Homo sapiens: one gene and its partner. The protein of the gene in region 1 interacts with the protein of each later gene in a pairwise test. Each region holds a gene or a part of one and is shown in the gene's direction. Other genes may lie near its edges. The genes, in order: KLHL6 and FH.

Evidence for each region.
Region 2: the proteins of KLHL6 (region 1) and FH interact in binary tests that used the Homo sapiens proteins (3 or more experiments, as listed by UniProt).

The regions. Positions count from the first base shown.
Region 1 is NC_000003.12:183,553,813-183,557,734, reverse strand, and holds the start of KLHL6 (kelch-like protein 6), read left to right. Parts: upstream 1-2,028; 5' UTR 2,029-2,081; coding exon 2,082-2,374; intron 2,375-3,922. UniProt on the Homo sapiens protein: Involved in B-lymphocyte antigen receptor signaling and germinal center formation.
Region 2 is NC_000001.11:241,517,518-241,521,439, reverse strand, and holds the start of FH (fumarate hydratase, mitochondrial), read left to right. Parts: upstream 1-1,684; 5' UTR 1,685-1,717; coding exon 1,718-1,849; intron 1,850-3,922. UniProt on the Homo sapiens protein: Catalyzes the reversible stereospecific interconversion of fumarate to L-malate. Experiments in other species have demonstrated that specific isoforms of this protein act in defined pathways and favor one direction over the other.

The DNA.
Region 1 (3,922 bases):
TTGTTAGTTTTCTTTATGTTGCTGGTTGCTGTTATTGCTAGGCATTTACATATGTTTTATTACCATTGTGAATGGCATTATTTTTCCATGACTTTTTTTTTTTTTTTGAGGCAGAGTTTCGCTCTTATTGCCCAGGCTGGAGTGCAATGGCACAATCTCAGCTCACTGCAACCTCCACCTCCCGGGTTCAAGCGATTCTCCTTCCTCAGCCTCCCAAGTAGCTGGGATTACAGGTGTACGCCACCGCGACTGGCTAATTTTTGTATTTTTAGTAGAGATGGGGGTTTCACCATGTTGCTCAGGCTGGTCTTGAGCTCCTGACCTTGTGATCCCCCTGCCTTGGTCTCCCAAAGTGCTGGGATTACAGGCATGAGCCACCACGCCCGGCCGTCAGGTTTCTTTATATGCTCCATTATAATCTTTTGGGACCACAATTGTATATTCAGTCCATCATCGATTGAAATGTCATTGTGCTGGGCATGACTGTACTTGTGACCGTTAATTTTAGATGTCAAGTTTACTGGGCTAAGAAATACCTAGCAACCTGTTAAAGCATTACCATGGGGCGTGTCTGTGAGGTTGTTTCCAGGAGAGATTAGTGAGTCTGAGTGGACTCGGTAGAGAAGATACACTCTCAGTGTGGGTGGGCACCATCCAATCAGCCAGGGGCCCAGAGAAAACAAAAACAGAAGAAAGGTCGATGTCTCTATCTCCTGAGGCTGGGATACAGTCATCTCCTGCCTTGAACAACAGGACTCCAGGATCCCCTGCCTTTGGACTTCAGGACTTACACCAGTCTCCCCACCCCCTGGATTCTCAGGCCTTTGGCTTTGGACTGAGAGTTATACCATCTTCTCTGGTTCTGAGGCCTTTGGACTTGAACTGAGCTCTCAGCAGTCTGTCATGCGACTTCTCAGTCTCCATAATCACGTGAGCCAATTCCCCTAATAATTTCCCTCTGCTATGCCTCTCTAGGTATCCTTTTGGTTCTGTCTCTCTGGAGTCCATCATCGACTGAAATATCATTATGCTGGGTATGACTGTAATTGTAATGGTTAATTTTAGATGTCAAGTTTGCTGGGCTAAGAAATACCTAGCAACCTGGTAAAGCATTACTGTTGGGCGTGAGAGAACGCTAACTGATACGCTCCTATAACTTCCCCAGGATATCATGGGATTTTAATAATGACAGTTATTACTACTTAACTGAGACATGCAGAGGTAATGAAAATACTTCAGGATCCACCGTTAGATGCACGGTCAGTAGATGTTGGGCTAATCTGAGACGTGCTATGGCAATTCGGTGTAGACCCACCCTGACTCATCCTCTGAGAAGATGCTGTTGATGGAGTTTTGGAAACCATTTCTTCTGTGCCCCCAAAGCATATTCGAAACAATAGACATTTTTTTTGGTGGGGGAAGACATGAAAGTTTGCCATGACGTTGTTTTCCCCTGGGTAGGGAGGAGGATGAAGATAGACGATCTGCAGTGCCGCCAGAAATGAGAATGTCAGGGATAAGTGGGGTTTCCATGGTTTACAAAGCACGGTTGTTGGATCATTGTGGGGTCTCAGACTCCTGGGAGGAGGAAGTGGGAGGATCATAGACTGTCTCCTGTCCATCCCCTCGCTGACGACTTGGGTTATTGAGCCACTAGGAGTACAAATGTGAAGCAGGAGGATTATAGACTGTCTCCTGTCCATCCCCTCATTGACGACTTGGGTTATTGATAGCATTAGGAGTACAAATGTAACAGCCACCACCGGAGGCTTCCTGCTCACGGATATGAGGTGGGAGATGCACCAAAATAAACACACAGCACTCACAGTGGACTCTGAGAGGACACTCCTCTTCCAGAACCCCCTCCCACACACCTATTCTAAGTAATTTCTAACCCTGTGATTACTCACAGAAAGAAGAAGAATAGAAGTTGCTGGCATTTGTAGTAACAGGATGAGAAAGTGCGAGACTTCCTGTTATGTGTGTGTGACAGCTGGTGATAAGTGGAGGGCCCTGCACAGGAAATCCGCTCAGCTCCTGCAATGGGGCCTGCCTGACACTTGGGCGCTCCTTCAGTCTCGATGTTGATGGCAGGACAAAGGGGCGCCTGGACCATGGGTGATGTGGTCGAGAAGAGTTTGGAAGGGCCCCTGGCACCTTCTACAGATGAGCCCTCCCAGAAAACAGGAGACTTGGTCGAGATCTTAAATGGGGAAAAGGTCAAATTTGACGACGCGGGACTCTCCTTAATTCTTCAGAATGGCCTGGAAACCCTGCGAATGGAAAACGCTCTGACAGATGTCATCTTGTGTGTGGACATTCAGGAATTCTCCTGCCACCGCGTGGTGCTTGCCGCAGCCAGCAACTATTTCAGGTCAGCATGCCTAGGACCAGAGTCAAATTGGGTGCAAGTTGCAAGGAAGAGGTGTGTTAGTGTGAGAGCCCAATCTTGAACAGTTGGCCATGATATTTATGGTTTACATATATATTAAGGCTTGTGTGTCTACTTAAAATATAAGAAAGGACACTATCACACTTTATTTTATTATTTATTTATTTATTTATTTTTGAGACGGAGTTTTGCTTTTGTTGCCCAGGCTGGAGTGCAATGGCGCAATCTCGGTTCACCGCAACCTCTGCCTCCTGGGTTCAAGCGATTCTCCTGCCTCAGCCTCCCGAGTAGCTGGGATTTGCAGGCATGCACCACAACACCCGGATAATTTTGTATTTTCAATAGAGATGGGGTTTCTCCATGTTGGTCAGGTTGGTCTTGAACTCCCGACCTCAGGTGATCCACCCGCCTCCGCCTCCCAAAGTGCTGGCATTACAGGTGTGAGACGCTGCGCCCGGCTTATCACACTTTAAATTTTAGGATTTAGGCCACATTAAAAGAGAGATTGGCATCATTTAAAAGCAATGCTTACATTCTATAGTAAACCTTTTGTGTATATTTCCTTGTTCCAAAGGATGGAAAATTACTGAAGTCATGGGGACTTTTTTCCCCCTTGGTCTGACTGGTGTTGGAAACATAATGTTGTCTTTGTTAATCAACAGACATAGAGAAAAAGGATGTGGCCCCTCTTCTGGAGTTGTCAAATGACTTGTTACAAATTAGGGGCTTCTTTATGTGTAGGCAGTGTGGGGAAAGGGAAAGCAGTTACAAAGATGCTTTAGATGGGAGAGGCCTCTAGTTACGATAAACTGGTGATCTCATAGTGGGAAGGCCTGAAGTCAGGAGACTTGGTTCCTTCTTGACAGTGAAACTTTAGGCAAGTCACAAAGTGCTCTGAATGTCTGTTTCATCATCTGTAAGGTGAGCACAATGATGATCACCTTTCAGGGCTGTCATAATTAAACAAGAGCGTGAAAAGGGTCCTACACAGTGTCTAGCATATAGTAAGTAGATGCTCAATATATCTTTCTTGGAATTCTTTTTCTGATTCTGCTTGATTCAGCTAAGGATGACTTATTGAGTGTTTCCCATGAGCACGTCCCTGGGGTAGGAATTTTATAGCGCTGGGAACCCAGTGAATACACCTGATCCAGTGTTCTCCATATCAGCATGGACATGGGGGAACCAGCCTGCAAGGGCAATGTGGATAATGAAGAAAGTATTTGGGAACTTGAAAAGAAATACCCTTAGAATTCTTCTTAATGAGATTCTTCTTAACTCTTGATTCTGGCTGAGGAAATTGAAAACGATTAACCTATGAAAGTATTATGGAAAGCGTTTTCTTTCTTTCTTTTTTTTTTTTTTGAGGTGCTTGGGGGGAAACGTTTCTTTGTAATTCATAGAGCAGGATCAGCAGGTTGCTGTGGGACTCATTAGGTCTCCTGTGTTGATAAGACAAGGGGATATCTGGGTTTGAGGGAAGCAGTGGCTGCTGTGTGCCAGACAGACATAGTTATCTGATTTTATTTT
Region 2 (3,922 bases), on another chromosome or scaffold:
TTAATACATATAAAGTGCTTTGAAAAATTCTAGAACATAATATGTGTCATAGGTAATTTTTAAAAGGGATTAAAATAACCTATTTATAAAAAGGCTATTAATTTGGGTTTTGAAAAGTTAAACTGTATGGTAGAAATAAGAGACATGCTCGAAACAAAAATGAAACAAAAAATAAAATAAAATGAGAAATATACAGCAGGCAAATAATAGCCAATATGAAATTGGTAGAGAAATATCAATATTAAAAAAAGTTTAAAAGGACAAGCAACAATAACAATAAAGAGGGGCACCACACAATGAAGAAAGAGATGATCTATGAAGAAATGATAAACATATGTTCATTAAATAATTTTGTGTAATAGCAAAGAAAAATGTTCTTTATTAAGAAACTGGATAAATAAAATATTTCATATTCATGTGATCCAATATGATTAATTTTAAAAGATCATGGCTATATCTTAAAAGCATAGAGTTCAATTATGCAACAGTAAAACTTTAAAGTAAAATATTAAAACCATTGTTTGTATATTAGTGTATGAAGCAAAAAATACACAGAACTGAAAGGATGCATCAAAATAATGATATACACAATAATGATACCTGCTGGGAAGGAGGAGAACAAAAACAAAACGTCATTCCATTATTAGCAATGTTTTAAAGAATTTGCATTCAGTTTTCTAGTGTGTTTTGATTGTAGTTCAACTATTACAATCTCATTTGAATTTTTATATTTTAAATATGTGTCAAATTTATAAGTCACAAAATAACATAATGTTACCAAAAGGTTTGGCAAGTTTGTAAGTTTGACTCATAAATTTGGCTTTGCAGGTTCTGGACTTTTGATTTTAAGAACATCCGATCGCTCTCTCTTTACTGTCATCTGGTTCCAAGCAATAGAAAAGAGAAAAGATAAAACTGTGGTTCAGATGCAATTTTATATCAATTCCTGCTTTTCTGTAATCAACTATTATATTAAAACAATATGCCTTTAATTTGAAAATGTATAAATTAGCTATGCAAAAAACTGGGAGAACGATATACAAATAATAAAAATTCCGAGGTTCCCTATAATTGTGTACGTCTTCCACAATACATTAAAAAAAAAAAAAGAGTTCTGAGGGTATAGGCTAAGAAGAGAAAGGAAACGGTAGCGATCTCAAAATGATAAGTTAAAAGAAATAAGTAAGTAGCTTATTTTTCAGTTGTGGGATTATGAATAATTACTATTTCATTATCTACACTTTGCTGCACTTCCCAAAATTTCTACACAGAAGATACAATCTGGAAGAAATGAAGAAAGATTTCAGTAGTAAGAACGTGTAATGAGTGATTACATGATAAATAAAACAATAAATATTTCTTTCTAGGATATTTCACCAACCAAACACGACCTGATTCACCAACTAATACTCCCGCCTTCTAACAGCCACACGTAAAAATCAGACCGGCTCCAAGAATAACCTGAGCCTCCTTTCCCATAATTCCCTTCTTTCTAGTTTCCCATGAATCCGAAGGCCTTACACCCCACACTACTACTAGAAAGTTAACCCGCCCCCTCATTCTTTACTGGTCATTCACGATTGGTCCTGCCCCACCTGTCGGTGTGAGGCTGTTGATTGGATAAGAGCGGAGGCCGGTGGGCGGAACGGTTTCTGACAACCGGCGTGGAGGCGTGGCCACAGCCGCCCAGAAATTCTACCCAAGCTCCCTCAGCACCATGTACCGAGCACTTCGGCTCCTCGCGCGCTCGCGTCCCCTCGTGCGGGCTCCAGCCGCAGCCTTAGCTTCGGCTCCCGGCTTGGGTGGCGCGGCCGTGCCCTCGTTTTGGCCTCCGAACGCGGCTCGAATGGTGAGCGCAGGCCGCCATCCCCCGGCCTCCCCGCAGTGACCTTCAGCCCTCCTGCCTGCCGGCCTGGGCGCCCGCGACTTGGCGGGAGAGATTCCCCGGGCGTCCGGGCCGCGCCAGACTCTGGGCTTAGCGCCCGTGCCGGCGTGGCGGGCCTCCCGGCCTCGGGACGCCTCTTCCGGCGCAGGGATGGAGCCGCAGCCCGGGAGAGCGCTTGGGGAGGGACGGGGGCTGTCAGAGAGGGTCCTACTGGGCCCGCTCCCGGCGCCTCCTCGGAGCCGTCCGTGGCGGGCCGAGGCCGGGGCGTTTTGAGGTAACTTCGCTGCTGCTGGCGCGCAGGCCCCCAGCCCCGGGGCGCTGCCCTCAAGGACAGTGCCGGCGTGGGCGGAGGGTGCTGGGAGAGGGGCAGCTCCCGCACCGTCCTGCCCCATAGCTGGGCCTTGCTGGCCGGACACTGGCCGCCTGTGCATCTAGTGGTTTCTGAACTGTGGTTTGTTTCGCCAAGGGGCACTGCACTGCTTTCAGGCCCTCCAGGTGGGGTAGAAGGTTCTTCGAAGATTTTACTTCCTTTGAAATTGCATGCTCAGTTTGTTAGGCTGACTATGGTTTCCCCCGTAATTGTTGTAAAACTCTTCAATTCCGAATACCGCGGGCATAGTGTTCTGAAGCATGTTTGAGCAGATTGGCTAGGAGCTGAATCGGTACTTTTTATTCAGAAAGCCAGCTAAGAACTTAAAGATCCAAGTTCAGGTTATGACATGCTTACGTAAGTCATTTTGCTCTTTAGAGTGTCATCTTTAGGAATGCAGGCTTTTAAAAAGCTTTAAATACATATGTATATTGTTAGGAAACGTTTGAGAAATGATAGTTGAAGAGTTACAGTTCTGCACTGGTGTAGCATGAGGTTTGCAATCTAAGAGATGTGATTTCAAATCCGTATGCAAAGTTGAAATACTTACAGCTACTCAGCAAAACTGCACATGTGAAAATACCATGTAGCGAGTGCTCATTAAATAAGTGCCCCATCTAGGGTATTTCAAAGGGCCAGTACTTTTTCTGGACTCTAAACTTCAAGATAATTTGATTGGGTCACTATACCTACGATATACAACTATACTACAGAATCAGAGATGTTTTGTATTCCTCGAACTCCCTGCTCGAATAATTTTAGGGCATTTTAAAACCTTTACATATTTTTAAATTTATTTATTGTTTATTTAGTGTTTTGTAAAGGGAAGCAGACTGGAGAACTTCTGAATCTATCCTGTTGATGCAAATGTCAAAAAATAGCAGCACTACTTTGCTCTTAGAATTGTAATGTTAGCTAAAATCAGATGGAGGTAGTTTTTGTTTTTTCTAGTTCTGGTACTTTTTGCCCTCTAACCATTCTCAGGTCCAAAATCTCTGTTGGTTTTGTTAAAAGTTCTTCCTGTTGCTAATGTTGAGAATTTCACATAACCCTTGATGCCCTAAGGTACCTTTTATTTAAAAGAACACATACAAATTCATTCAATAGAAAGATACTGTTTATTGAGTGCCTTCCACTTACCAGGCCCTGTAAATAAGACAGTCCCTATGGGGATAGGGTTTTACAGGCAGTGTTTTATTCTTGTCTTTAGTGGAGATTAAATAAGCAAAGCAGTTAAATAAGCAAATAAATCACACATGAATAATTAGTGTGATCATTGATTATTAAAAATGCATTAAAAAGTGCATTGAGAATGAGAATATTTAACAGGCAGACCAACTGTGATACTGACTTGGTAGCATGATGGCATATATATAGTGTTTATATATGTAAATAATGTTTATACATTTCTTATATAAATGAATATACATATGTAATATATGTGAATAATGTTTATATATAAATAATGTTTATAAATTTCAAATAATCATTCTTAGACCGTTTTCAAAAGTTCCCAGTAAAATAAGCATTAAACTAAGTACATTGAATTGGCCAAATCTTGACCAGTAATAAGCATACTCTTGAAATGGAAAAGATTACTATTTGTATTTCAAAGTCTTTATGTTTATCACCAGCATAGTATATTAGTTCTACAGTCTGTCTTTAAA